Regions from separate parts of the Homo sapiens genome. Here all the other regions are linked to region 3. The links come from fine-mapping of genetic effects on gene expression. A gene starts in region 3. Each other region holds a variant in brackets. All regions are shown on one strand. Distances are from middle to middle. Region 1 overlaps IQSEC3 (IQ motif and Sec7 domain ArfGEF 3). Region 2 overlaps IQSEC3 (IQ motif and Sec7 domain ArfGEF 3). Region 3 holds the start of IQSEC3 (IQ motif and Sec7 domain ArfGEF 3).

Evidence for each region. PIP is the estimated chance that this variant, and not a neighbour inherited with it, causes the effect.
Region 1: its variant is fine-mapped to the expression of IQSEC3 in skeletal muscle (GTEx, PIP 0.98).
Region 2: its variant is fine-mapped to the expression of IQSEC3 in whole blood (TOPMed, PIP above 0.99). The same link has a PIP of 0.9 or more in aorta, atrial appendage, lung, thyroid, tibial artery and visceral fat.

Annotation. Positions count from the first base shown.
Region 1 is chr12:162,219-171,988 of GRCh38, forward strand. It overlaps IQSEC3 (IQ motif and Sec7 domain ArfGEF 3), which reads left to right. Exons shown (of 14, transcript NM_001170738.2): 9 at 1,276-1,401; 10 at 3,216-3,315; 11 at 3,511-3,672; 12 at 6,795-6,887; 13 at 8,894-8,943. IQSEC3-AS1 (IQSEC3 antisense RNA 1) reads right to left here. Exons shown (of 3, transcript NR_183431.1): 2 at 3,094-5,489; 3 at 2,402-2,539. Among named protein-coding and RNA genes, the nearest start is that of IQSEC3-AS1, 15 kb to the right of the region's middle. RefSeq lists a silencer at 6,120-6,593. The variant G/C (reference allele first, on the strand shown) is at 4,952.
Region 2 is chr12:135,373-145,142 of GRCh38, forward strand. IQSEC3 (IQ motif and Sec7 domain ArfGEF 3) reads left to right here. Exons shown (of 14, transcript NM_001170738.2): 4 at 2,895-3,982; 5 at 5,752-5,913. IQSEC3-AS3 (IQSEC3 antisense RNA 3) reads right to left here. Exons shown (of 10, transcript NR_033859.2): 2 at 8,937-9,197; 3 at 7,867-8,037; 4 at 5,962-7,261; 5 at 5,540-5,872; 6 at 5,276-5,431; 7 at 4,868-4,998; 8 at 3,179-3,272; 9 at 2,928-3,080; 10 at 2,039-2,255. Among named protein-coding and RNA genes, the nearest start is that of IQSEC3-AS3, 8.9 kb to the right of the region's middle. The variant G/A (reference allele first, on the strand shown) is at 4,469.
Region 3 is chr12:61,866-71,635 of GRCh38, forward strand. It overlaps IQSEC3 (IQ motif and Sec7 domain ArfGEF 3), which reads left to right and starts at 4,902. Exons shown (of 14, transcript NM_001170738.2): 1 at 4,902-5,571. The coding sequence starts at 5,018.

The DNA.
Region 1 (9,770 bases), 100 kb after region 3:
TCTTTTTTTTTTTCTTGCCTGATTTCCTCATTGCCTCTTGCCACCCGATACTGCAGCAGGAGAGACGGAGATGAGATGTCAGGAAGGACTGCCCAGTGGTCTAGGGTGGAAGCATCTGGGTGGCCAGATGAGATTTAGTATCCCTTTCCTAGGACAGCATGACTACCAGGCATTCCTGGATGGTCCTGATGAGTGGAAGGCAGGAAATGGGCTCAATAGGCTCCAGGCTGTGGCATCACCATAGATTTGTCCTATTGGTAGTGACCTGTGTCCCAGGCAGCATGTTCCAAGCCTGCCATGATTTTTAAAGTGGGACTTCTCTGTAGGCTACTACACTTTATACTATAAAGGATGTCATGGGGGTTCCAGTTCCTCCTCCTCATATTCTTGCCTCAGGGGACGGTGTGGGAGAGTTTGGAGATCTCTTCTGAGGCCCTGCACTGGGCTCCCTCCTCCCAGTCTGTGCAGGGACAGGCTTTTCTGCTTTGAGAGCCTTTATTGCTGAGGTCTCAGCATCTGTCGGGTTGCAAGCGACTGGTTTGTCTTACACGCTGGAGTAGATGCCAGGTGTCTCTGTGATCCCTTCGCTCTCGCACACCTGCATCTCTGCAGTATAGAAAGGGTGGAGGTGTCATATCTGCAGGCCGCAGCCTGGGGCAGGGGATGCCCTCAAGGTTACGGAGGGAAGCAGGTTGACAGTGGCTGGACTGGAACAGCCTGCAAGCTCTTCTCAATTTCCTATTCCTGTCCCTCTATCCCCTCATTTACTGTGGCTCAGTGGGCCCCTTCTCTGGCCGTGCTCCCCAAGAAGCATGACAGGGATGAGCCCTGGGACAGGGGGTGAACGTGCGAGGGAAAGAGCCTCAGACGAGGAGAGAGAAGGATGAGAGTCAAGTCCAGGCCCCAGGACAGAACCGGAGCCCCTCCCCTCCCTCTCCACAAAACCGAACCCCTCCCCTCTCCTCCCTCCACAGAACCGGAGCCCTCCCCTCCCCCTCCACAGAACCGGACCCCTCCCCTCCCCTCCCTCCACAGAACCGGACCCCTCCCCTCCCCTCCCTCCACAGAACCGGACCCCTCCCCTCCCCTCCCTCCACAGAACCGGACCCCTCCCCTCTCCTCCCTCCACAGAACCGGACCCCTCCCCTCTCCTCCCTCCACAGAACCGGGCCCCTCCCCTCTCCCGGGCTGTCTCCTCTTCTGGAAAATGGGCGCGTGGGTGGGGAGGCCTCCAGGCCTCTGGTCTCTCCCGCTGAGCGCCCTGCCCGCGTGCAGGTGCTGTCCGTGCCCCACCGCCGCCTGGTGTGCTGCAGCCGGCTCTTCGAGGTGACGGATGTGAACAAGCTGCAGAAGCAGGCAGCGCATCAGAGGGAGGTGTTCCTCTTCAATGACCTGCTGGTGGTGAGTGGCCTCCGCTCCGGGACTGGGCTGGGCTGGGGCTGCCTCTGCCGCCCTGGTCAGCCTGGGCAGGGTCCCTGAAGTGGGCAGGAAAGGACGCCCAGAGCTTTCAGACAGAATGCCTGTTCCGTGGGACGGATCTGCCTTCATGGTGCTTTCACACCGTGGGCGTGAGGGGGCTCAGGCAGACATGCTAATTCCTACCTCATAAGTCATGACACCGAGACGTCAGATGATCTGCTCGTGGTTGCACAAACTGTTAACGAACTAGTTCCCAGACCACTGGCCTCTCCACGTTACAGGAAGCCCAGGACAGGGAGTGCACAGGGCTGTGCCTCAGACCCCAGGGCCTGGGAGGAGCAGGGCCTAGGCGGAGCATGCTCTGTCCCTGGGCCTAGGCGAGGCTGGTGTGTGTGTGTGCGTGCACACACATACACACATCTGTACCCACAGATACTTTTTTTGCTCTTTGAAAAGAAGTATCCATTCAACAAATATTTGATCAGCGTTGACCATGTGCCAGGCATCATTGTAGGTCTGGAAAACTGGTGAGCAGGACTGGAGCAGGGCTTGTGTCTCCCTCGCACCGGCCCTCTCTATCCATGAGCCACGTTGGCACTGCCTCCAAAGTGATCACAAGCCTGAACCACCTCTCACCACCTCCACTACTACAGTCTTAGTGCACGCCTGGTACATTCAGTGAACCACATCAGCCTCCACACGGCTCTCCCCACCCCCCTGAGAGCAGCAGCGTGATCTCTCTGGAGTGCACATCAGGCCACGTGTCCCCTTTCCCTAACCTGCCTCCCCGCCCTCTCCTCAGCCCTGGGAGGCGCCTCCCTCCTGTGGGCCAGGCCTTTGTACTTGCTGCTCCTTCTTGCAAAGCTCCTCCAGACCTTGCACTCTCCTCTTGCCTTCCTGGCCTCCTCCTTTTCATTCAAGTCTCAAATCACTTTTGATTCCTTACCCTGTTTCATTTTCTTCAAAACACGTAGCACTTTGGTTTTGTTTTTTTGCTGTTATGCTTTATTGTTTGATCACCTGATGGACACTGTGACACTCCACATTCCATAAGCACCTTAAGGGCAGGGGCTCTGTCCTGAGTTCTCCTGTATCTCCAGGGCTCAGCTCACAGAAGCTGCTGAATAGAAATTTGTTTATTAAGCAACCAGATGACTTTACTAAAACGAGCTTTCATTTTAGTAGGGGAGGGAGATAGAAAATAATTAAGAAACAGACAAACAAGATAATATCAGATTGGGGGAAGGCACTATGAAGGCCACAAACCAGGTGATAGTACAGAGAGTGACTGGAGTTAAGGGCCAGGTTTGGGCTTGCTTTGGTTTGTTTTTTAGAGGAGGTGATCCAGGAAGGCATCTCTAAGGAGGTAGCATTTGAGACTTAAGTAATGAGAGTAATGCAGCCGTGCAAAAAGCTGCCGGGAGAGCTGTGGAGTGGGAACAGTGTATGCGAGGGGCCCACAGTGGAACTGAGCTTGCCCTTCTCAAGCTACAGCAGGGAGGACACTTGGGCAGAAGGCCAGAGTAAGGCAAGGACCACATCAGGTGGGTTTTACAGGCCAGCTCAGGCGCCGTGGCTTGGCTTCTAAGTACAGAGGGAATAACCACTGTAGGGTTTTGTGCAGTGAAGAAGCACATTTTGGGATAGTGTGTGCACATATATGTATATCTGTACCTGTATGTGCACATTCATCACTGCGTGGGTTTGTGTGATCGTGCATCCCCCGGGTGTTTGTGCATCCATGTGTCCGTGAGTGTCTGTTCATCAGGGCATGCCTGTTTCCCTCTCCTGAACAGATTCTCAAACTTTGCCCGAAGAAGAAGAGCTCCTCCACGTACACCTTTTGCAAGTCAGTTGGCCTGCTGGGCATGCAGTTCCAGCTCTTTGAGAACGAGTGTAAGTCTTTGACAGCCAGTGTAAGTCTTTGAGAAGGAATGAATGGATGAAATGGCTGGGGCGAGTTGAGGGAGAAGGGCTGGACAGCAGAGTGGGTGGAGGCATGAGACCCCGTGCCCTCCTCATGTCTGGCTGGCTCTGGCCCTCGGCTGCTGCTGCTCACAGCCCACTGGGGGCCTGGGGTCTGCTTTCCAGATTACTCTCATGGCATCACACTGGTGACCCCGCTCTCGGGCTCCGAGAAGAAGCAGGTGCTGCATTTCTGTGCCCTGGGCTCGGACGAGATGCAGAAGTTCGTGGAGGACCTGAAGGAGTCCATTGCTGAGGTGACGGAGCTGGAGCAGATCCGAATAGAGTGTAAGGACACGGGCTCCCGAGGCAGCTGGTGGGGGTTCCCATTCAGCAAGGGACAGGGGCAGCTTGAGACAGACATGCCTGACTCCAGGGAGCTGGCCCCACTTCGGACCCTCCCCGTGTCCAGGCCCCACCGCACCACACTCCCACAGCCCGGGTGGGAGCACCGGTTCCCATGTTTCTTCACAATTAAAGTGAGGCTTGCTAGAGTGCACACACGTGTGTACACAGATCAGCAGGCATGTGGGGCTGCGCGTGGGCCTCTTGGAACAGAGAGCTCTGCTGTTTTACCAGGATGACCAAGCGAGCTGGCCAGGCAGGCCCATGGGGCTCTGGTGCGTTCCTTCCCACCAAACCGTCTGCTGTCACCTCCCCCACTGTGGCCCAAGTCTGTACACTGCATCTGGTTGGCCTCATTTCTTCACTCTCTTTTAATCTTGAATCATCCCTCCACTTCATTTTTTTTAAAACATTGTCCTTTTGAAGAGTCTAGGCTGCCTTCTTACTATCCCGCATCTTACAGTAGTCTCTGTTCCTATAAGGAATGCTTAGATTCTAGATTGTTCCATTCAGGCATTTTAGAGAATATGTGGGTCTCTTTCTGTGTCCAGGTGGTTTACTGGCTGCTGTGGGGTTAAGGGAAGAGAGGCAAGGGCCTGCAACCTGTACCCATCTGCAAGCTTGTCCTGATTAAGCATCACGGAGGCGCCAGATAGCCTTTAAGGGAAGACTAAATAAGAACAGATTCAGAAACTGAAACAGAAAATGAAAATAGGCTTCAGGCCTGCCTCTATGGCCACTTAGTTATAAAGTGTTTCTGAACTAATATCTGTCCATTAGGCGCTAGGAAAGGCAGGGAGAGTTTTTGAGCAGGGGATGAATGTGACAGGCTGGTGCTTTTGAATCATCATTTTTGAGGCTCCTACTACACACTAAGCAGTTTATTTCTGTTGTGTGGATCCTCACAGTGACGCTGCAAGGTAGGTGCATTGACCCCACTCTGCAGCTGAGGCTCGGAGTTCAGCCGCGTGTCCAGGTCGCGCATGTTAGAAACTGTCATTTTCATTTACGTTTGATTCTATACTTTCCACTGGAGAGTGAGAGAAGAGGTTCTGTTTATTTTTTTCTAAGGAAACAATTTAAACCAGGGTAAAATGGGATCCATCGGACTGGACTCTGGAACTCAGGTAACTGCTTGGTGGGGAGGGGCGCGTGGAAACTCCCTTCCTTCAATCTGTTGGCTTATTTGAGTTCAGTGGTGAAACAAACAGATTCTTTTCAA[G/C]GGCTGGACCGGATCCCCAGAGAGGCCGCCTCTGCTGTTTTTCTGGAGCATTTTCAAGGAAGCACCTTGAAATGGCTTCACGTCTCTCATTGTCTAACTGTCCCAGATGGCTCCGCACTGCCCTGGGGGGCCGTAGCACACCAAGTGGCACCAGCATTGCTGGGAGAGGCACTTTCCCCCATCAGCCCAGGAGCAGCACATACCCCGCTTCCCAAAGTCACAGAGGAGCAGATAGCGTCAGAATCTGTCATGTCAGGAGGTGAATATCCTCTCCTGCTGCCTCAAGGGTAAAAGAGCAGGAAGAAAGGCTCATGCTTGGCCCTTAGTCTTCACTGGAGAGAAAGGGAAGGAACAGCTGAGGGAAGAGGAAGGGTAGGCCAGGGAGACAGGGAGGAAAGGAAGCCAGGAAAAAAAAAAAAAAGAAAATGGGCTGGGCTCAGTGGCTCACACCTGTAATCCTAGCACTCTGGGAAGCTCAGGAGGGAGGATTGCTTGAGCCCAGAAGCTCAAGAACAGCCAACACAGCGAGTCCTCGTCTCTACAAAAAAGAAAAGAAAATGGAAAACAGTATCAGCTACCATTTATTGAGGACTAATCCTCACAACAGCTTTCCACAGTGGGCATCATTTTACAAGTAAGGAAACAGGCTAAAAGCACTTAGGGAAGTTGTCCAAGTTCACAGTCAGTGACAAAACAAGGTTTGCATCCAATGGCCCAGGACTCCTCACTTGTAATTATCAGGCTAATTTCTCCAAAGCCAAGAGAGCCCCTCTGTGGGGAGAGAAACAACTCTCAGTTGAGTAGAAATATTTAGCATTGATCGATGGGATGGTGTGATTTAGGCAACCAGGACAAATTGTTCTGGTTTGGGGGCCTACGGTTCAGTGTCCCTGGTTTCTAGACAACCAGAGAGACTGAAAATGGAGCCCAGGAGAGTAGCTTTAATAAAAGGAACTTGAGTTATGTCTCCTGGAAAAGAGAAGCGGGAGGAGTGATTTAATAATCATGTCAAATCTCCAAGGATGGCAGCCGGCAGTTCTGTAGCTCCACTGAGAGAAGAACAAGAAGGAACAGGTTTCCAATCCAGTGAGAGGAATTAAAGTTGAGTACCTAGACAGATGTCCTAGCACTGCAGGCTTGTAGCTTCCACACCCTCGGTGTGGACTTTCCTCCTTGGGAGAGATTTGAACACCTTGCGGAGGCTCAGCTGGCCAGGCAGGCTCTGTCCTCCCAGGCAGGCTCCGTCCTCCCAGGCGCCGGGTGGAGAGGTGGGTGTCACCCCTGTCAGCAGGCTCTGCTGTGCCAAGTGCGTTTCACACAATGTAACAAAACTGATACAGGTTGGTGCTAAAGTAATTGCGGTTTTTGCCATTACTTTCGCACAAACCTTAATACTTAAGGAGTACAGGTCACTAGCCAGGCCTTGTGCTTTATGTGTATCTCCCACGCAGTCCTCTTAATGACACCGTGAAGTGGGCCTGGCTGTCCTCTCGAGTGAGGCATGGAGAGGTTGGGTAACTTGCCTAAAACCACACAGCCAGGGAGTGTCAGGACCAGGACCCAAACCCAGGCAGTTCACCTCCCTCACATCGGCCTCTTCTGTGCCTCTCTGACGTTCAAGCAGATAGGATCATCCCCATGTACAGATGACGAAACTGCGGCTCCGAGGGGGTATTTAACTTGCTATTCAGTGGTGGGGCCAGACCCGAGGTCCGTGTTTCACAGCATGTACTGGGACCTCTCCTCCTCTTCCTCCCCTTTCTGCTGGCCCCTCATTTCCTGCCTCGCCTCTGTGTGGTTGAGGTTAAGGTTTCTCTTGCTCACGGGCCTCTGCATTCCTTAGGGGAGCTGGAGAAGCAGCAGGGAACAAAGACACTCTCCTTCAAGCCCTGCGGAGCCCAGGGGGACCCACAGTCAAAGCAAGGATCGCCGACAGGTGAGCCTCGGCTCCGCTCAGGGCACCAGTCCCCATGGAGGCCACTCGGGGACCCTGGGTGTGGGTCCTGGGCAATCTGCAGGGAGAGGTGCCCATTCCCGTGGCGTGTTTCTTCCTGCTGAGGAGCGCCAGGCTTGCCTTCTTTAATCTCATGAGCTTTAGTGGTGGGAGTGAGGAGGAAGGCGAGAGAGAAATGTGTCTGTCCATTTTGCAAACTGCACCAGAGGTCTGGAGTCCGTGTGAGATGTCACTGTCTGCCCTGGAGGAGTCAGGCAAGAGTCCTGGCATCCTGGCCCCTGCAGGGAGGCCTTCCCTCCTGCAGCCAGGCTGTCTGGACGAGGCGAGGTCAAGAGAAGCCCCACGAGGAACACTCTCCAACCAGGCAGTGTAAGAGGGCAGGGTGACCAGAAGGATCTGGATCTTGCTCTTCTCTGTACAGTCCCTTCTCTAATGAGCCACAAGCACTTCCTGACCCCTGGCTCAGGTCAGCCCACCCCAAATCCAGAGAGACCCTCAAACTCCACTTCTCTAGTGGTTTCTCCAGTGGAATTGCTCACTCCAGCCGAGTCACACTGGCTCCAGAGCTGGCCCCTCCTTTGGCCTGCCCCAACCTTACCCCACCTGCAGGGGGCCAGGAAAGGTTTCCACCACCTCCCTCCACCAGCCCCAAATAAAGAGCATGAGGGGAGATGCATGAGAATTCAGTCTCATCCCAGTGAAATCCCAGCAAGCCATTCACAACTGTCCACCCATTAGTTAACTCGGTCACTTACTCTCACACTCAACAAACACTTCTCGAATGGCTGCTGCCCTGTGCAGAACACTGGAAAGCCAGGGTCATAGTGAGACGCCAGCTTGAGCTGAGAAGCTCCAGTGGGCCCCGTGTGGTCCATGACCCGCCACAGTCGGCCCTGAGTCCTGACTTGGAACAGGCAGCAGCGTGGGGACTAGTTACGGCAGCGAGGACATGAGATTCACTTTCCAAGCAGGACATGGGGCTCTTTTCGCTATGTGGAGATTCTGTGATGGAATCTTTCCTGTATGGGTTTGACCTGCCATCGTGCGTCCGTAATTCTCCACGCTGCCTGATCTCCACTGGCCTCTTCATTTCTATAAGGTCATAGGGCACGGGTTGCTGCTTTTGTTTTCTCAGCTGTGGAACCCCAGAGCCAGCCCTCAGCTGTGTGTCATTCCCTGCCATTCCTTCCTGCCTCTCTTTTGGAAGCTGCCCGCCCTGGTTAGGCCCAGATGCCTGTCCCCAGGGACGTGTCCCTTAGTCCCCTCCACAGCGGGGTCTTTCTCATTCCCAAACAATGGTGCAGCTCCCTCTCCTGCTGCAGGAAGCAGAGGGCTGAGCACAGCAGGGGGAAGCTGGCACCCCCAGGGGTTGGGAAATGAGAGGGGCTCCTGCGGGGGTCGGGGTGGAAGCTGGGAGTGACTCAGCCACAAAGAGCCAATGAGCTGTCCGTGGGGGTCCGCAGGGCCCCTGCTGCTGTGCCAGGCCGGCCAGAAGGCCCTCAGAGTAATTACAGAGCAGTTATCGGCTCTCACCGTGCCCGGCACTGCGGTGAGTGCTGTGCAGGCCTCAGCCCATTCAGTCCTGCCCCCTCAGCCAGTCTGCAGGGCTGGAGCAAAGAAGCGTGGCCCACGCTCAAGGAGCCTGTGATCCACGGAGGCTGATGAACGTGGCGCCCACAACCCAGGCCCCCTCCAAGCCTTTTACAGTTCGTACTGGGAAGGCTTTGACTGTGGGTAAATCAGATTCCACAATGCCAACATCAGAAAGAGCGGCAGCGATCTTCTAGTCTGCGGCAGCCCAGAGAGATGTAGCATCTCGCCCAGGTCACATAGCTCCTAAGTGGCAGAGTGGGGCTCCCAACCTCCGCCTCAGTGAGGAGCAGTGTGACCCCAAGTCTTAGCTGCAGAGATGCTTGAGGGGCACAGGGGAGGGGCAGGGGCTTGGCTCAGCCGGTGGAGAATGAGCCCTGTGCTCTTTGCATTCAAAGCCAAAAGGGAAGCCGCGCTCAGGGAGAGGCCGGCGGAGAGCACGGTGGAGGTAAGTGGAGCCCTGGTTGCCCAGGTGAGTGACTACCCTGCCCCCTTGTTCTTCTTCTCACCGTCTCTGTTGTTTCTCTTCTCAGGTATTAATCAATGCCTCCCCAGCCCGACTCACCATTTTACCAATTTCAAGAGATACAATTAAAAGTTACTGCTAGCATGGGTAATGCCACTGTTCCAGCGCCTAATTAAGCCACGAGCTCTTTCTCCCCTTTCCCCAGCCTGCTGCCCTCCGAGGCCGAGCTCCCAGACTAACACAGTGGAGACGGAGCTCACGGCACCCTAGGGCCATCCTTCCTGTGTGCCCCCAAATCCACCTCCCCAGCAAATGCTCACTGCTCACTGCTCCCCCAGTACTTGCTGTATCAGAAGACCCCACATCCCGTTCCCCAAGTCCTCCCACCATCCATAGCGGGGAGCCTGGGCTCCCTCGGAGAATTACCCCTTAGGCCCCAAACGATCACTTCTGGGGCAGACCCTGCCCTCTTGGACACCTGGGGCTAGGTTGGAGAATTGAGACTTGGGGGCAGGTGGGAGGGGGAACTCCTCCCCGGAACAACTGGTCCATCTGGAAAGCTGGCCATGGCGCAGGGATGTGTGTGCAAAAGAAAATGAGACAGAGTAGGGTGGGGCTGTCCTGAGGGCTGTCCTGGGGGAAGTGATAAGCTGAAGACTGTCTGTGGTGGAGGGGAGGCTGCCCATTTGGCTCCATGCCATACAGTGAGGGACTGCAGAAGACCCAGCAGCAGCTGGTCCCTGCCAAACCCCCCCAGTGCCACCTATGGGAGGAGTGTGCAGGTGCCCCTACAAGCCTCGTGAGCCCCA
Region 2 (9,770 bases), 74 kb after region 3:
ACAGAATGCCTCAGAGGCAAGTATCTGTGTCTCTTATGGGTGCATGAGGTCATACCTAGTAAAGATCAAGTGGGGAAGTGTCCAGTTCGTACCGTGGGCAAAATTCTCAGATGGCCCCCAAGTCCCCTTCATGCTAGTGTACACATCCTATATAATCCCCTTCCCTTGAGTATGGGCAGGATGAGTGAATGTGATGGGACATCACTCCAATGATTAGGTTACCAATTGGTTGATTTTGAGTTAATAAAAAGAAACATCACCCAGGGTGGGTCTGAGCTAATCAGGTCAGCCCTATAAATGAAGCTGAAGCCCCAGACAGACACTGTGCCGTTAGCCTTGAAGGACCAAGCTATCAGGTTATGAAGCAGGCCACATGGTAGGGGACAGCAGGCAACCTCTAGTGACTGAGGGCCTAAGTCCTGTGATTACAAGGAATTGAATTGTGCCAACAAGAGCGAGCTCAAAGGAGGACCCCACACCTTAGATGATATTGCAGCCCTGACTGATATCTTGGTTTCAGCCTGGTGAGATCCCGAGCAGATAACCCAGATGAGCTGTGCCCAGACTAGATTCACAGAGCTGCATGAGAAATAAACAGGTGCTACTTTAAGTGGCTGGATTTGTGGTCATGTGTTACACAGCAATAGATGAGGAATACACTTGGTGTGGTTTAGAGCACCTTGAAGACCCCTCCAATAGGGGGATTGTGATAGCACTGGGAGCTTCCTCCTGCTCAGGGCCTTGTCCCTCATGAAATGCAAGTAACTTTGGGAGAAGCCATATAGGAAGGCTTAGTTGCCATTTACACATTAATCTGCGTGAGTTCCAACGATCTCCAAGGGTAGAGTTGGATGTTGGGGGAGACAGAATGATGTCCCCAGGTTTGGGAATGGGGAATGGGAATGGCCAGGCTGGAAGCACTGGAGGCAAGCACTAAGGATGTCTCATTTTATCTGGGATTGTCCTTGGGGATTGGGGTTGAATCCACAAGGTGTCCTGAGCTAAGAGGCTACCTCTGCTAGCGTGGAATGGGGCACCCATCACACCCTGCAGGGAGGGAGCAGAGGGCACGGCTGGGCTGTGGGAGGCAGGCATTCATTCTGGCTGCAGCCTTTGGGGGCTCCAGTGGAGCAGGAAGCAGGTTGAAGTGTTGTGCTGAGGGATGAAGTATGGCCTTTCTATCTGTACCCTCGCCATCCATGATCCCTGGAGAACAATCTGTACCCTCCCCACCCATGATCCCTGGAGAACACGGGACGTCCCTGTTCTTGCCTTGAGTCGTTCATCTCAGCGCACCCATCCCGATTCTTCGTTCATTCGGGAAGGACACCACGTGTAAGTGGCATGTCTGGTTGTGAATAGGAAACACTCGCACTTCCCAAACTTCTCTGAGGGCTGATCAGAGTCTAGGATGCCACCATTTAAGCCCATCACCTTCACACAGGCCTTGTCCCTTATTTAAAGGCAGAAGCCTCTGGGGGCATGGCTGTCATACCTCCCCAGTCCTTTCCTGAGAAGTTTCCATAGGGAGGAAAAGTGAGAGCGTAGCAACCTGAGAGGAGAAAACCCACGGACAGGAGGACAGAGCCGAGAGGAGGCACGCTGGCCCCCTGACAGAAGTTTTCCTGGGATCAGATCTGCCCAGGTGAGGTGCCATGCCCCCGAGCCCACCCCACCCAGCCCTGCCCTGGTTGGACAGCTCCCACCGTAAGAGCAGAGGTGACTCAAATTGGGGAACTCTTGGTAATGGTGGCCTGGAGGGACCCCCATTCTTGAGACACCCACTCAACTTTTTAGCAAATCCACGTTTACTGAGCAGCTAACTATGTACTGGGAACACACAGATGGTCCAACCCCAATCCCGACCCTTCTGATGTTCCCAGGGAAAGGAGCCACCCCAACACAGAGACATGGTTGCTGGGGAGGAGCAGGGAAGCACGAGGAGCTGTGAGGGTTTTTAGCATTTATGTTTTTCATTGTTTAGGGGAGGAGCGGGGAAGCACGAGGAGCTGTGAGGTTTTTTAGCATTTCTGTTTTTCATTGTTTATTGTTTTAAAGTGTGCACAAAAGTAGAAACGACAGTGTTATAAACTCCCCCGTAGCTATCATCCAGCTGTAACCATTTTATTAATATTTATTAACATTAATATTGTGTCATCTAACTCTTCCACATTTTTTGACAGAATATTTTAACACAACTTCAAGATATCATGCATTTTACCCATAAGTACTTCTGTATGCATCTCTGACATGAACTTAAAAAAAAAAAAAAAAAGAAGAAAAGAAAAGAAAAAAACAGAGACAAGGTCTCACTGTTTTGCCCAGGCTGGAGTGCTGTGGTACAATCATAGCTCACTGTAATCTCCAACTCCTTGGGCTCAAGCAGTCCTCCCACCTCAGCCTTCCCAGTAGCTGAGGACCACAGGCGTGCGCGCACCAGGACACCCAGTTAATTTTTTTTTTTTTTTCAAGAGAGAGACAAGGTCTAGCTATGTTGCCCAGCCTGGTCGCAAACTCCTGAGCTCAAGCAATCTTCTCTCCTTAGCCTCCCAAGATGCTAGGACTGCAGGCCTGAGCTAATGCGCCCGGCCATGAACATTTTGTAATACCCGCCACAGCATCGATATCTGAACGCCATATGCAGCACCTCCCTCCTGGCCCTTGAGACATCACTAGTCCCCAGAACGGACCCCTCCGTCCTACACCTCTAGGAGTCTTGCCACGTGGCCAGGACGTTCTAGGCGGTTCAGACTTTAGCTGCCCAGGAGCGCCCCCCCGCCCCCGTCCATTCCTGGGCCCCACCCGAGTGTGGCCGGGTGACTCCACCACTCCTCAGAAGGGCTGACCACCCTTCCCCTCTGAGCCCTTCCTCCTCTCTGTCCTCGTCCTTGCAGATTGAAATGCTAGAACATAAGTACGGCGGTCACCTGGTGTCCCGGCGCGCCGCTTGCACCATCCAAACCGCCTTCCGCCAATACCAGCTCAGCAAGAACTTCGAGAAAATCCGCAACTCGCTTCTGGAGAGCCGCCTGCCACGGCGGATCTCCCTGCGCAAGGTGCGGTCACCCACGGCCGAGAGCCTGGCGGCCGAGAAAGCGCTCATGGAGGGCTACGGCCTCGTGGGGCTGCCGCTGGTGCGCTCGCCCTCCCTGCCGCCCACCTTCGCAGGCACCCTCACCGAGCTGGAGGACTCCTTCACCGAGCAGGTGCAATCCCTGGCCAAGTCCATCGACGACGCGCTCAGCACGTGGAGCCTCAAGACCATGTGCTCCCTGCGGGAGAGTGGCGCTTACCAGCTCCACCAGGCCCTGCAGGCGGCCGCGGGGCCCCCAGGCCTGGAGGCCGAGGGGCGGGCGCCGGAGAGCGCGGGCCCCGGGCCCGGGGATGACGCCGCGGAGACCCCCGGCCTGCCCCCGGCCCACAGCGGGACCCTCATGATGGCTTTCCGGGACGTCACGGTGCAGATCGCCAACCAGAACATATCCGTCTCCTCCTCCACGGCTCTGTCGGTGGCCAACTGCCTGGGCGCTCAGACGGTCCAGGCCCCCGCAGAGCCCGCGGCGGGCAAGGCCGAGCAGGGCGAGACCTCTGGGCGGGAGGCCCCGGAAGCCCCCGCCGTGGGCCGGGAGGACGCGTCAGCCGAGGACTCATGCGCAGAGGCTGCGGCTAGTGGGGCGGCGGATGGGGCCACAGCCCCCAAAACAGAGGAGGAAGAGGAGGAGGAGGAGACGGCGGAGGTGGGGAGAGGGGCCGAGGCCGAGGCAGGCGACTTGGAGCAGCTGAGCAGCAGCAGCACGTCCACCAAGTCCGCCAAGTCAGGCTCGGAGGCGTCGGCCTCCGCCTCCAAGGACGCCCTGCAGGCCATGATCCTGAGCCTGCCGCGCTACCACTGCGAGAACCCAGCCAGCTGCAAGTCGCCCACGCTCTCCACCGACACCCTGCGCAAGCGGCTCTACCGCATCGGCCTCAACCTCTTCAACATGTAAGTCAGCCCCGGCCCCCAGCCCGGAGTCCTGGGCGTCCTGGGAGGGAGGGAAGGAGGAGGGCACCTTCCCTCCACCAAGCAGGGCGCCAGGTAACTTCCCACGTCATGCCAGGGTCCTCCAGGCAGGCGCATCTGTGCCGTGCCTGATCCCTGAGGTCATGTTTAGGAAGTACATATTTTATTTTAATCATCCTGAGTTTATTTTAAGAAAGATTAAAGGAAAAAAATAACACATCAGACACATGCTTTCACAACTGTTACAGCTTAAGATGAAGCTAGGGTTTGAAAAGTAAGAGAATGTAAAAGAAAAGACAGTATTAAGTAAATAACAGTCCAGGCCGTTTGAGGATTACGCAGCAATCATTCGGGTGGATATGAAGCCAGGGAAAACGCATTAGCTCCCAGGGTTGGTGAAATGCGAGGCTGGGTGGGGGAGGGAGGAGAGGCGCCTCGTAAAGAATGCCGGCTGAGAGCAGGAGAGGG[G/A]AGGGCTACGAGGAAGAGAGAGTGTGAAGCAGGCAGAGGCACAGGAGAAAGAGAACAGGGGAGAAATGACCGACCGCCATAGCTCAGAGACCCCAGCGAGACCGGGACTGGTCCTGCACCGAATGTATACAGCCAGTCCCAAGCAGAGGAAAGGAAGCACACCTGCCCCTCCCATGGAAATGTCAGGTCCAGGAGGCAGGCACTCGCCTCCATCCTCCACTCGCCCCTTCATAACCCTGCGCCAAGAGCACATCTCCCCGGCCCTAATGCGTGTTCATTCGTTCATTCGGCTGTTATTTATTGGGTGCCAGGCACTGTGACCACAGAGGTGAGAAGGACACATCCCCTGGCCTCAAGAGGCTCCTATTCTAGGGGAAGTAGCTACTGTTCATAGCTCACCTTACATAAAGCATCTGTAATCTTCCAGCAGTATCTACACAGAGGTATTACCATGCTGTTTTACAGAAAAGAAGCCGGCTCACACCAGTAAGGCGAAATGCACACGATGAAATAGCTAGTACTCGGCAGACCTAGGGAAAGGCGGATCTGACTCTGAACCACTCCCACTTCTGCAGTGTCTCTTCTGCATGCACATGAAAACTCATACAGACACTCATCTGCCCCAAGACAGGAATTCTTAAACTATCCATAGTGAAGAACCAGTTTTGTTCCCCCACACCCTTCTGAAAATACATTGTGGGCTAATACTTTTGTAAAATACAATAAAAATGAGGTGCTAGAAAGACAATCACATGCCTGGCTGTCCCGGAAAATGTCGAAATGCTATGGGAGGTTCTCAGTGCTTACCTTGTGTTTCTGTACTTATCTCCTCCCGGACCTGTGAGGAACAGCTCAGGGAGCAGCATGGCTTCAAAGCTTGCAAAGGGAAGAGGTGGTGTGGCGGAGGTCTCACCTCTGTTTCTCCCACCCTCTCTCCAGGGTTGGGGCGTCTGCGGTGGGGACCTGCATATTGACAACAGGATATGGGTAGGGGGAAGGGCAGGACTGGGGTAAGACCCAGGAGGCAGGGACAGAGAAGGGTACTTCTCCTCCATCTGCTCTGGAATTCACTTTGTTTGCAGATCTCCCCTGTCCTCCTTCTGGTCACACACCATCCTCTGCGTGAGGACATTCAGTGGGTTGAGGCTCTGGTGAGAGAAGCTTCAATGGGGAACTGGATTTCCAAGAACCTCTGGGTACTTCTATGGGTGGAAGACAGGGAGGAAAGAGTCATGGATGGCTTCAGCTCACTCTCTACTGCTTCTCCCCACCCCCACCTCCAGAAACCCCGACAAGGGCATCCAGTTCCTGATCTCACGCGGCTTCATCCCGGACACCCCCATCGGTGTGGCCCATTTCCTCCTCCAGCGAAAGGGCCTCAGCCGCCAGATGATTGGAGAGTTCCTGGGCAACAGCAAGAAGCAGTTCAACCGCGACGTGCTGGAGTGAGTACCCCACACTCCGGGCTTTCCCCACTCCTTCCCACACCCCACCTGCCCGGGCTCTCTCTGTGAGCTCCTTGGTGAAATCCTCGCTCCAGTTCTAACAGCTTCCAGCTTCCAGATTGTCCACAGGAACCAGAATCCCCTCTTTAGCCCATCACCCCAGTGGGCCGGAGCCCTGTCTCCCGTCAGAGTCATTGATTGAGTTCGCCCCAGGCCAGGCTTCGTTTGAGGCAGCAGGGATACAGAAATGGTCCAAAGAGACAAAAAGCCCTTTCTGCCTGTCACTCTCCAGGGCAAGAGAAACCAGGAAAAGGAAAGGGCTTGTGTCAGCACTGGGGTTCATCTCTGCCTGGTGAAGAGCCCCTCAGCCCCCCTCCCCCAGGACCCTCCCATTCTCCAAGGTTCATTTTCATATCGCTGGAGGCAAAAATGTGAGACAGAAAAAAGAAGGGGTTAAACTGAGGGTTTTAGAGCAAGAAAATACTACAATTCCATAAAGATAAATCTACCAACAAAATCATGACCAAAGAAAAATTGTTTCTTTAAAACCAAAGAAAATGGTTTTAAAGTCCAGTAGCAGGGTGGGGACCCCCAGGGGGCTGCCTTTGCCCCCGCTCAGCCTTGATAGTGTGGACAGGCAAGAGTCTCTTCACACTCATGCCTTGTCCAGAATGGCAGGGCGGGGCTGGCGCTCCTCTGAGGCTGAGGGGCCTTGCAGCTACTCCTTCCCTGGGACATCGGCTTCAGCCCCTGCCATGCCCCCGTGCTCTTTCTGGCTTCCACTGGTCCCCGAGGTTGGCCTCCTTCTTGAAGGTCTCCATTCTTCAGGGACCCTCCCTCATTTCTCTCCCCTCTTTCTCCTTGGGGACAGTCAGCAGAAGTGTCTCCCCGGAGGCCCTGGGAAGAGCTCTCCCTTTCATCCTCGCTCCTGGAGCAGCAAGGGACTGCCAGAGAGGGTTTGGACGCTGGGGGAGTCATCCACCCAGTGGTCAGCTTCCCTGGAGTGGGAGCTTGGATATTTCACTTCTATTTATGGAGCTGTCTTGGTGCTGTGTGCCCATATTGAGAAGCCCCTGTCCTCTGGGCCTGCGTTTCCATGCCTGCAGAGTGGTGCTGGGTTGTGAGGGCTGGACCCATTGCCCTCTGAAATCCCTGTCACATTTCTAAATCCACTGACGCGGTGGTTTTCTGACTGAGTTCAATGAGTGAGGGCTGGGGTTCGCACAGGTACCTTGAAATCCCTGCACAGCCCTCAGCTGGGCAGAACTGAGTTCCTGTCCCTGACTCTTGGTGGCTTTTGACAATTTATCATCCCTCCTGGAGCTGCTGGTGGAGACGCTCTGTGGACCTCAAAGAGGAAAGAGAGACAATGCTAGGCAGCGCCTCCCTCTCACCTCCTTTCTCTTCTCCCTCCGGCTTCCCTTCCCTTCCCCAGCACTGCTGTGGGGGCCCATGGAGGTGCTACTGGGATCCAGGATACATCTAGGTTGCAGAAGGGGAGAGATGGCATTTCCTCACGCCCTTCCTTTTCTGTGTCCCCTAGTTGGCTCATCTCTCTGGCTTTCCTGCACTGTTGTCCCAGTCCATCCCTTCCCAAGCCAGGGTGAGGTGCTGGCCCCGTAGCCCCAGGCACCCCTGCTGTCTCTCTGCTCTGGGGGCAGGAGTGACTCTGCTTCACCCACAGGCCCTGACTGTTGTCTGTTTTCTTCTGTCTTTCCCAGTCTCCATGTGGCCTGCGCCCTAAATTCTAACCTGCAAGGCCCACATTGATCTGGAGTGCTGGGAACACAGCGTTTTCCTGCAGCCCAGGTGGTGCTGAGTCGCACAATGGAAACTAATTGCCCTCTTCCCTGGGAGGCTGCGTGTATGGGCTGTGGGCTGGAGGCTTGGAGCAGTGGCTGCAAGCCTGTGCTGAGGAGGGGAGCTGGGCTGGGGGCTGGGGGCTGGGCTAACCTTAGGTAGGGATCAGGCTTGGGATGGGTAGGGGCCAGACTCCCGCGTTGGTACACTCTTCCAGTGAGAAGAGGCAGCGTGGTGAGATAGGAGAAATAGCTGGACCCGGGCTCTGCTCCTCTGTGCTGTGTGGCTTTGGCAGGACACCTCTCTGGGCCTCGGTGTCCTCATCTGTAAAATGAGAGGGCTGGGCGATGTGATTGCAAAAGTTTCTCCAAGTCCTGAGAATCTACCACCTTTCCCATCTCTTAGTGCATTGGTAGCACTGCCCTAAACACTGGGGCATGATTTGTCATCCTGCCAGAGCAGCCCACAGGCCCCAGGGCCGTGCTGGGGTGCCAGAGTTCATGCAGGGCAGTGCTGGGGTGCCAGAGTTCATGCAGGGCAGTGCTGGGGTGCCAGCGTTCATGCAGGGCAGTGCTGGGGTGCCAGCGTTCATGCAGGGCAGTGCTGGGGTGCCAGGGTTCATGCAGGGCAGTGCTGGGGTGCCAGGGTTCATGGGGGAATGAGTTGGCCATTTGTTATTCATTCAACAAACATCGAGCACTTATTTATTGTGTGTTGAGAATGGGGCCACGCTGGGCACCCGTGTGTGTGTGTGTGTGTGTGTGTGTGTGTGTGTGTGTGTGAAGAGGCATGGCTCACAGTCTCAGGGAACGTACAGACCCAGGTGTGGATGGGGAGAGGTGAGAAGCAGGAGCATGGAAAGAGAGTGAGAAGAGCAAGGGGCCTCCAGCCGGAACCCTGGCTTGGGCAAGGTTGAGTGCAGAGCTAAGCCCTGATATGCCCTGGTGAAAGCCGCAATCCCTCATGCTTGATTGTGTAGCCCTGCAGGCCTGGCATGCTGACTCAGCGCCACAGAAAGGAGCCCCTCCCTGAAGTCCATAGGTCACTGACTGCCTTGCTTCTCTCCGAGGTGGAGAGGGCCCTGTCCTGCAAAGGGCAGGAGAAGATGGAGAAGCAGAAAGTGGCAGGCACTAGCAGGGGAGGGGGGCGCTGGAGTCTTTGCATTTCCCTTCCACTCTGACTGTGTCTTCCTTACTCCCGCCGGAGAAAACACACACACTAACCGAGTCGCCAGGTGCCATTTTGCCCAGGCCTGGAAGGCTTCACTGGGATTCTATACGGCTCCCCTGCCCCCGCCTGGTGACATTCAGCAAGCGGTATTCATTCTGTACAAAGCTGTTTGCCGAATAAAAGGATATAAATCACCCATCCCCTTGGAGACTAAAACAGCCCAAACCGCAGCACTCTCCCAAGAAGCAGCCGATGAGGAAGAGCCGATGAGAAAGCCTCTGAGAGGGGAAGGGTGTGCTTCCCAACCGTCAGGCCTGTGCGGAAAGGAAGAGGAGGGAGAGAGCAGCTGCCACCTCGGCTGCTGGTCTGTGTCTGAGCATCATGAATGCTGTGACATTTGCTTTCAGAATTCGGCCCTCAGCGCTCTTGGAAGCTGACATCTCCATCCTTTTGTATCTTATTTTCACAGAAGACACATTCCAAGAAGGAATGTATTCTTACCAGGCCTTATCAAATGACAATAATAGAAGGCATTCTGAGCTCAAAGAGCCACACCCATTCCAGTGTTTACCTGCAAAGGTTTCGCTTTTGGTTTTTTTGAGACAGAGTCTTGCTCTGTTGCCTGGAGTGCAGTGGTGCAACCATGGCTCACTGCAGCCTTAAATTCCCAGGCTCAAGAGAACCCCTCACCTCAGCCTCCTGAAGAGCTGAAACCACTGGCATGTGCCACCACACCTGGCTAATTGTTAAATATTTTTGTAGCGATGGGGGTCTCACTGTGTTGCCCAGCTGGTCTCAAACTCCTGGCCTCACACAGTGCTCCCACCTCAGCCTCCCAAAATGCTGGAATTACAGGCATGAATCACTAGGCCCAGCCTGTTTGTTTT
Region 3 (9,770 bases):
ACATTACCTGACTTCAAACTATACTACCAGGCTATCATCACCAAAACAGCATGGTACTGGTATAAAAATAGGCACACAGACCAATGGAAGAGACTAGCAATCCCAGAAATAAAGCCAAATACTTACACCCAACTGATCTTTGACAAAGCAAATGAGAACATAAAATAGGGAAAGGACACACTATTCAACAAGTGGTGCTGGGATAATTGGCTAGCCACATGTAGAAGAATAAATCTGCACCCTCATCTCTCACCTTATACAAAAATCAATTCAAGATGAATCAAATACTTAAATCTAAGACCTGAAATCATAAAAATTCTAAAAGATAACATTGGAAAAACTCTTCTAGACATTGGCTTAGGCAAAGAGTTCATGACCAACAACCTGAAAGCAAATGCAACAAAGATAAATAGAAGGACTTAATTAAACTAGAAAGCTTCTGCACAGCAAAAGAAATAATCAGCAGAGTAAACAGACAACCCACAGAGTGGGGGAAATTTTCACAAACTATGCATCCAACACAGGTCTAATATCCAGAATCTACAAGGAACTCAAACAAATCAGCAAGAAAAAAACAAATAATCCCATCAAAAAGTGGGCTAAGGACATAAATAACAATTCTCAAAAGAATATATACAAATGGCCAACAAACATATGAAAAAAATGCTCAACATCACTAGTGATAAGGGAAATGCAAATCAAAACCACAGTGCTGGCCAGACATCGTGGCTCACACCTGTAATCCCAGCACTTTGGGAGGCTGCGGCAGGTGGATCACCTGAGGTCAGGAGTTCAAGACCAACAGGGTGAAACCCACATCTCTACTAAAAACACAAAAATTGCCGGGCATGGTTGTACACTCCTGTAGTCCCAGCTACTTGGTACTTGGGAGGCTGAGGCAGGAGAATCACTTGAACTCCAAAGGCTGAGGCAGATGAATCACTTGAACCCAGGAGGTGGAGGTTGCAGTGAGCTGAGGTCGAGCCACTGCACTCCAGCCTGGGTGACAGAACAAGACTTTATCTCAAAAACAAACAAACAAAACAAACAACAACAACAAAAAACACCACACAATGTGATACCACCTAACTCCTGCAAGAATGGCCATAATTTAAAAATCAAAAAATAATAGATATTGGCATGAATTTGGTGAAAAGGAAACACTTTTACACTGCTGGTGGGAATGTAAACTAGTACGACCACTATGGAAAACAGTATGGAGATTCCTTAAAGAACTAAACGTAGATCTACCATTTGATCCAGCAATCCCACTACTGGGTATTTATCCAGAGGAAAAGAAAGCATTATATGAAAAAAAGACACTTGCACACATATGTTTATAGCAGCACAATTCACAATTGCAAAAATATGAAACCAGCCCAAATGCCCATCAATCAATGAGTGGATTTAAAAAGGAATGAAATAATGGCATTGGCAGCAACCTGGATGGAGTTGGAGATCATTATTCCAAGTGAAGTAACTCAGGAATGGAAAACCAAATATCATATGTTCTCATGTGTAAGTGGGAACTAAGCTATGAGGACTCAAAGGCTTAAGGATGATGCAATGGACTCTGGGGACTTGGGAGAAGGGTGGGAGTGGGGTAAGAGATAAAAGACTACACATTAGGTACGGTGTACACTGCTCAGGTGATGGGTGCTCCAAAATCTCAGAAATCACCACAAAAGAACTTATCTATGTAACCAAACACCACATGTTCCCCAGAAACTATTAAAACAAAAATCATCATAGTAATTTTTAAAATAATAAAAAATTTAAAAAGAAAGACACGAAGTAGTGTATACTGTATGATTTTTATGTGAAATTCCACAACAGACAAAACTAACATATACTGGCAGACAGCAAGTCAGTGGTTAACTGGAGCTGAGGATGAGAGGAACTGACTAAAATAGGGCATGAACATTTGTCAAAATTCATTGAACTGTGCACATAAAATGGGAGCATATCATTGGATATAAATTATAAGTCAACAAAGTTGATTTTTTTAATGAAAAAAGTTTTTAAAATAAAAATTCTTGGTCCCCATTCCTAGTGATTCCAATACAGCAGGACTGGTATTATGGGAGGAGACCACCCCTCATATTGCCTTATGCCCATTTTCTGCCTCCAAAGAAAGAAAAACTAAAAACTAAAAGGCAGAAATGAAATCCACAAGCAGACAGCCCGGCGCCACACCCTGGGCCTGGTAGTTAAAGATCGACCCCTGACCTAATCGGTTATGTTATCTATAGATTACAGACATTGTATAGAAAAGCACTGTGAAAAATCCCTATCCTGTTGTGTTCCGATCTAATTACCGGTGCATGCAGCCCCCAGTCACGTACCCCCTGCTTGCTTAATCGACCACGACCCTCTCACGCGCACCCCCTTAGAGTTGTGAACCCTTAAAAAGGACAGAAATTGCTCACTCGGGGAGCTCAGCTCTTGAGACAGGAGTCTTGCCGATGCCCCCAGCCAAATAAACCCCTTCCTTCTTTAACTCGGTGTCTGAGGAATTTTGTCTGCGGCTTGTCCTGCTACAATATAGGGCTCAGAAATCTGCATTTTCAACAATCCGCATGGATAATTATGCTGCAGGCTGTTTCACTTATCGTATTCGTCTCTAATTTGCTGTCCAAGCACCCAATTCTTGGACAGCAAATCAACTAGGCAAACAAAGAAAATTCAGAAAAAAGAGTTTGAGTTTTTGTGTGCCCTTGTTTCATCCCCCAACCTCCATTCTTTAGCTGGAATGCTGGTCACTACCAAAGCATCCTCCTGTGTGCTGTTTCCCCTAACCGTGAGCTCAGCTGTGGATAAGCTTCCTTTATTCATTCTTTACCAAAGAAAGTTTGCTAGGAAGATAAATGGGAGAAAAGCAAAATAAAAACACATCAGGAATGCAGATAAACCAATATATGTGCAGAGCACAAGTTCCTTCTCATAAGGTCATTCAAGTCTGGCACCACGTGGTGGTGGGGGGTGGGCCAGCTCACTGGGCACATGGTACCCATAAATATGCCTACCCTGGGGGAATGGAAGGTTGACAGGGAGCCTGATGGACATGTGTGTGAAGAACGGAACAACACAATAACAAACATGCGAAGCGTACTCATAGCCCTTCCTCCTTCCCATCCCATTCCTATAAAAGAGGAAAGAACAACTCATTTCCTTCACGGGGCATGGTGGTATGCATCTGTAGTCCCACCTACTCAGGAAGCTGAGGCTAGAGGATTCCTTGATCCCAGGAGGTCAAGGATGGAGTAAGCTATGATCCTGCCACTGCACTCCAGCCTCGGTGACAGACAAGACTTTAAAAAAAAAAAAAAGTAAAGGAAAAGAAAAGGAAAGGGATATTTCCCTGCCAAATTAATTTAAACCAAGTGCTCTATTTCCATTCATTAGTTTTTTCCCTGCTGCCTGATGTATCTTTCTCATATCTGGCCCCCTGTTCTGTCTACCTGTTGAAATATTTCCCATTCTTCGTGGCCCAACTTGAGTAACACCTCTGTCAGAACTTATCAGATCAACACAGTCAAATGAATCCTCTCCCTCCCCTGAACTCTATGGCACTTGGCTTGAAGAGCTCTTACAGAAATCTTGAGTTGTGTTTTACTTATTCATGTGCATGGCATATCTACTCTATGAGATTGGAATCAACTTGATTATAGAAATGATAACTTATTATCTATGCTAGATGTGGCTTGCATAGATTCTGTACATTACTTTGCACCTAGTGAGTGGTGATTATTGTAGACATGAATGAATGATTCAATCGGTGCTGATTAATGTCTCTGAGCTTTTGCTCATGCTGTCTTCCCTTTATGGAAAACCCTTCCCACACCAAGGGTCACTTCCTGTAAGAAGCCTCCCTGGATCTCCAAGCTGCTGGCTCCTATAGCACTCTGGGCAAACCTCTGCCTGATTACTCACCACCACTATCATACGTCAAAGTTAATCATGACCAATTTCACCCACTTATTTATAAGCTTCAAAAAGCCTAACATTCCATTCTAGTCATGCTTCTCTTACCACCATCTAGCACAGTGTTTGGTAATAGTGTGCATTTTATAACTGTTTGTCAAATAGAATGATCTATTCAGAAGCTTCTGGAAGCGTTAGCCCTTGCCACAGAGGACCTCGTTTATTTAGTGTTTCTATCAGGAACTGCCACAGTTGTCTTGAGGTCTCACTCCCAGAGGAAACCCAGCATGAACAGCCTTCCCATCCCAAGTTTCGTCACGGATGAAGGAAGGAGCAGGACCAGACGCTCTTTAGGGTCCCTTAGAGCCCCAGGATTCTTGTGTTCCAGGGAATCCCCTGGCAGAATAGATTGCTGCGAGCAAAAGAGGCGAGTGTGGCCCCTCCTCAGCAGGTCTCTAGATGAACCCCAGCCTCTGGAAGGCCTGGACCTGGGAAAAAAGAATTCGCGTCCCTTCAGGGCCCCACGCCTTCCTGTCCTCCAGCACATTTCTCTTTCTTGGCCCCACCTTCCCTTTTTCTGCTTCCTCTCTGCTGGCCTCTCCCCTTCTCTTCCTTTCTTTTCTGTTTCTCTTCTCCTACAGGTCCCACCGCACCTTCCCAGTATCGCTGCTTCCCCTTCGCCTACTTCCCAGTCTGGCCAGTCAGATTCACCGTCCTTCTCGGGTCGCCTGCGTTATCTTGCTTTCCTCCCACGCCCCGACAGAGGCTCCCTCTCGCTGGCCTCCTCCCTCTCCTCTCTGCCCTGCAGGCAGCAGAGCCTTCGCTGACGCCAAGAGGCAGCGAGGTGGGGAGGCGAGGAGTTGGGGAGGTCTGGAGGTAGGGGGTGGGGTGGGGGTGGGGCCTTGCGCAGCCGCCCCGCCCCGCGATGCGTGTGTGAAGGTCGGGGTGGCAGTGACGCGGCGCCGGCGGGGGGAGGGAGGCTGGGCCGGTGGGAGAGGGAGGCGAGCCGACCGCTGGGCTGCTGGGCTCCCGCGCCCTCGCGCTCCCCGCCGCCAGCCCAGGCGCAGGCAGGGCGCAGGCGGCGGCGGGCGGCATGGAGAGCCTGCTGGAGAATCCGGTGCGCGCCGTGCTCTACCTCAAGGAGCTCACGGCCATCGTGCAGAACCAGCAGAGCCTCATCCACACCCAGCGAGAGCGTATCGACGAGCTGGAGCGGCGGCTGGACGAGCTGAGCGCTGAGAACCGCAGCCTGTGGGAGCACCAGCAGCTGCTGCAAGCCCAGCCTCCGCCCGGGCTCGTCCCCCCGTCATCGGCCCCGCTGCCGGCCGCTCCGGCCACCGCTCCTGCCGCCGCCGCCAGGGCCCAGGAACCTCTCCAGGACCAGGGACAGCGCTCAGCAGCCGCGCCGCATCCCGCGCCCGATCGGCCGCCGCGTCAGCACCACGGACAGCTCCTGGAGCAGCCCCAGCGGGGCCCTGGCAGCAGGGCTCACACACCCCAGTCGCCCCACAAGCATCTGGGGACACAAGGGGCCGTGACTGACAAGGAGAAGGAGCGTCCCCCGAGTTGCTGCGCTGCTGCCGGAGCCCTCCTTCAGCACAAATCCCCCTCCGCCCTCGGCAAGGGCGTCCTGAGCAGGAGACCTGAGTGAGCGGGGAGAGGAGATGGGCACTGTTGTGGTGGGAGCAAGGGAAGCAAGTGGGTGTGAGGGAGAGACGGGGACGTTGGGTGCGTAGGAGTCTAAAGGACCGGAGTGATGTGGCCTGAAGGCGCCAGAAGTGTGCAAAGGAGATTTTGGGTAAATGAGGGAACGATATCCCTGCTTGAGAAGGTTTTGGGGAATGCTGGAGCAAAAAGGAGTAACCAGACCATTAGTAGGAGCAAAGGAGGAAGGAGGTGGGTGTTAAGCGATTGGTGATACTGGGAACTGACAGCATTTAAACGGGGTTAGGCTGGGTTGAAGTTCGAGTGAAGATTAAACTGTAGAAAAGAGAACCATTGAAGGAATCTTTTTAAGTGAGAAAAAATTTGGAAGGAAGTTTGGGTAGTAAAAGTATTTGCATGGAGACTGAGATGTGAGAAAAGCTGAAGGCTTGGAAAGAGGCATGTGAAGAGCTTTAAAAAGGCTGGGGCCCAGGAAGAGTAGGACTGGGGTAGAGGGGAATCCAGGAGGCCGGGGACAAACCTGAAAAGCAGGAGTGATGTGGGAAACCAAGGGAGCTGGAGGCAGAGGAAGAGAAAATGTGGCTCTTTAGCTGGTGAAGTGGGAGCCACAGCTAGGAGTGGCTCATTTAGGGAAGCTTTCTCTTCTCTGACCTGATTGGACACCCTTCCTCTGAATTCCCGCAGAGCCGAAGAGGTGCAAGGGAACATCCCATCAAACCAATGGAGGACTCAGGCATGGCTTGAGGACTCAGTCTGGTTACAGCTTTTTCCTCCAACTCAAGGAGGGTTTTTCATACAGGGTGTTTGGCCGTTGTTGAAAGGGAGCAATGACATGGGGGACAGTTGGCAGATGGAGTTGGTATTCAGATGCCATGCCTGTTTAAATCTCCCTGTTAAGGCCAGCAACTGCAAACCCTTTTTTCCCGGTTATCTGGTGATCACTGAAATCTTGCCTTGGGTCCTGAGAGAAATGTTAACCTCTCAGTTCCTAGAACTTCAAGCTCTTTCTTCACTCAGGAGGTCCATGAACTAGGAATATGGGAAGAAGATATGAAAGTGTCTGGGATGTTCTCTCCTCTGTACTGGAAAGGCTGTGGCCATGTCTGCTTCTTTTCTCTGATTAGGCAAGTGATGGAGAACTAAACAAAGAACAGTTCAAGGGAAATTGTCCCTGGTCAGCACCTGACCTTGACAATGGTGATGCATAAGGGAATGGGGAGGGGGAAGTAGAGCTGAGAATCTCATCTTCATCCAGGTGCATTAAGTCTGGGAGATACTTGTGAATATTTGCTGTATTCCTTCAAAACTCATTTTCTTTTACCATCTGTGGTAGAGTTAGAGAAGTTGGGTTAGGGCAGGGTAGCTCACAGAGCACGTTGATCAAAACCACAGGATCTAAGAGGTGAAGGTCTAACATGATCTGGCTTGGCAGACTTAAAACATTTGATTCAAGTCCCAAGAAGATACAGTTTTCTACCCCAACTCCCTCAAAACCCCTTTGTACTTCCCTCAGTTTCACATTTTTATTTTTATTTTTTCCTTATCTGGCATAAAAAGCAGAAAGTCAGTTTTCCCTCAATGCCCAAGGCTCAGCAAAAGGCAACATTGTTCCAAGATACTAAGTGGTCTTTTCCCCCACATGAGGGGATGAATTTTTCCAGTCCCCTTCCCTGAGGGCAGCCACAGCTACCTGGTCATTATGATTTCTCTCCTCATGACTTTTGGTGTCTCCTGTCTCTCCCACTGCAACTCCACTTTCTTTGCATCTCTTCAGGGCACTGTGTGGCCAAGAAGAGTTGAGGAAAGATTATTTTTCTTAGACAAAGACATAGCCATAGCCTTCAGAGTGGCCTACGGAACCCAAACCCTTTCACTCAGTTGGTCCTGCTCGGAATCCTGGGATTTAGGAATCATCTGGGCTCCTGTCCAGCTCCACATGTCAATTCTGGAGAGGAGTTATAATATCCTCACCTTTCCTTCTCACCTGTCCTGCTTTTGCTTCCCAAAGGAGCAGAACAAAAATAAAAAATAATTAGCATGGTGGAGCAGAGTGGAAGTTATTGGAATCTTTCACTTAGAAAGTTGCCCCAGGCACTTAACAGTAATGCCTTACTTTCTCCAGATTCTCCAGCTTTTTCTCCTGCTCCCCAATCCTGCACACTCAGAAACATAGAGACCATAGATGTGCCTGCCTCCCCTCATCCCTGCAGCTCTCCTTCCTTGGATGTGAAAACATGGTAATCTTGGCTGGTTGAATATCTTCTGGACCACTCATTTCTTTCCCCACAGTGGCCCAACTTCAACACCAATTTCCCCACAGAGCTCAGGACGGAATCACCATTGCTAATGACATGTTTCGTCCTACCCTGCTCTCTGCCCGTGGCCCGTTTTGTATGTTTGTTCTCCTCTGCCCATAGTTGTCTATGATGCAGGACAAGATGGAGCCAGCAGGCAGACAGAGATCTCCATGGAGAGGGAGAGGTGAGGAGGAGGAGAGCAGAGCCAGCAGCCCCCTCCCTGGTATTGCTCCTGGGGAGCTCCCCGCAGAACTGGTTCTCTACTGGGAGTGCTGAAGCGGGAGGAAGAGATGGCACAGTGGGTCTTCCAATCATGGGTTTCCTGTGAATCCTCCCTCATTCTTCCTCTGGCCTCCTTTCAGCAAGAACGCGACCCCACTGAGGTGGCTGAAGAGTGGGTGAGGGTTTCCAGAGGCCAGGCACTCTGGTAGATGCATTATGTCCTCACACAGTTTGACTTTTATCCCCAGAACTCCTCTTCCTACCCAATTCCAGGAGAGGCAGAAGCCCTAGATAACTGGGACTGGAAAATAATGAATCATTTAATTGCCATCTTATCTGCATTAATACATAATCTGGCCTCTCTCCCTCCTTCAGCTGAGGGAGACACAAAGGTGGTGGTCTTGGAGGTCAGTCCAAGAAAGCAGCAATATGTGGGTGAGTGAATGCAGAGATATTATGGAAGAAAAACATTTGAAGGGTTAAAATTATTTCTCTGCATGCTTCTTGATTCTTGCTAAGCTCTGACCCCCACTGCTTTTGCCTCTTAATGAAAGCAGCAAACATAGCTTCCTCCTCCTTATTTTTTCAATCAAGGCTCACGGCATCTACAGAATTTATTACTATCCCTTTCCTGGCTGGTGCCAGAACCTCAACTTGACCTGACAAATCCTCTTGCCATGGAAGCACATGAACTTATCTGAAGTGGCTGGCTTCAGTGGCTTCTAAGCACATTTGCCCAACCACCAGTCATGCGTTTAGTGTCCATGGATGACAGGGCTTGTCCATGTCTCCAAGGCCACAGGCAGATGATTGCTGGAGGATAAATTCTTGCATCCCCATTCAAATTCATCTCCTACTCCAAATCCCAACCTCAATATGACTATGAAGTCTGAAGGGCTCCACAGCTCCTGTCTTCTCTCTGTTACATTGCTTCTTCCTTTCACATCCCTCCTCTGCCTCACTACCCTTTTTCCTTCATTCTCTTCTCCCCTTCTACCTCTCCCCCAAACACTTTATCTCTCCCATCTTCTCTTCCTTCTATCCTTCTTCCACATAAGCTACACAGGGAAATCTCTTTCTTCTCTACCCTTATCCTTTAAACACAAAATCAATCTTGAGTATCTTTTGAGCTCCCTCTTCTCATTCTGGCTGGAGGCTGGGGATAGCTAGAAGAGTTCTGGATGTGCTTTTTATCCTGATTTGTCTAAGATGCTGATGGGAACTGGGATCTCTGCTCCTATTGAGTCAGAGTTGCATGCTTGAAGGTGATAGCTCATGACTGGCCCATCCTGGAAACTATTAAGAAAGAAAGTGTGAAGGTCTGTCAGTCAACTATATGTATCAAGTGTCCAGTCTATTCAAAACCCTGCACTCAGTGCTGTGGAAAGATTGGAAAGAAGCAAATGGTCCTTGCTCAAAATAAAAGAGACACATATCTAGAAATGCCTAAACAAGTGTAAGTATATTGCAGCTGCCTAAAGCAATCCTCTATCAGAACAGCACAAGGTAAAAAGGGTGAGTATACAAATTATGTTAACAGCCAAAGAGCAGGTTTTCTTCACTGAAGTCAAAGGTTTATGTCAGAATTGTAAGAGGCAAGGATAGCTGGAAAGGGAACAGAAAGCAGAAAATTCAATCTATGGAGATACCTGTTTTGCATGT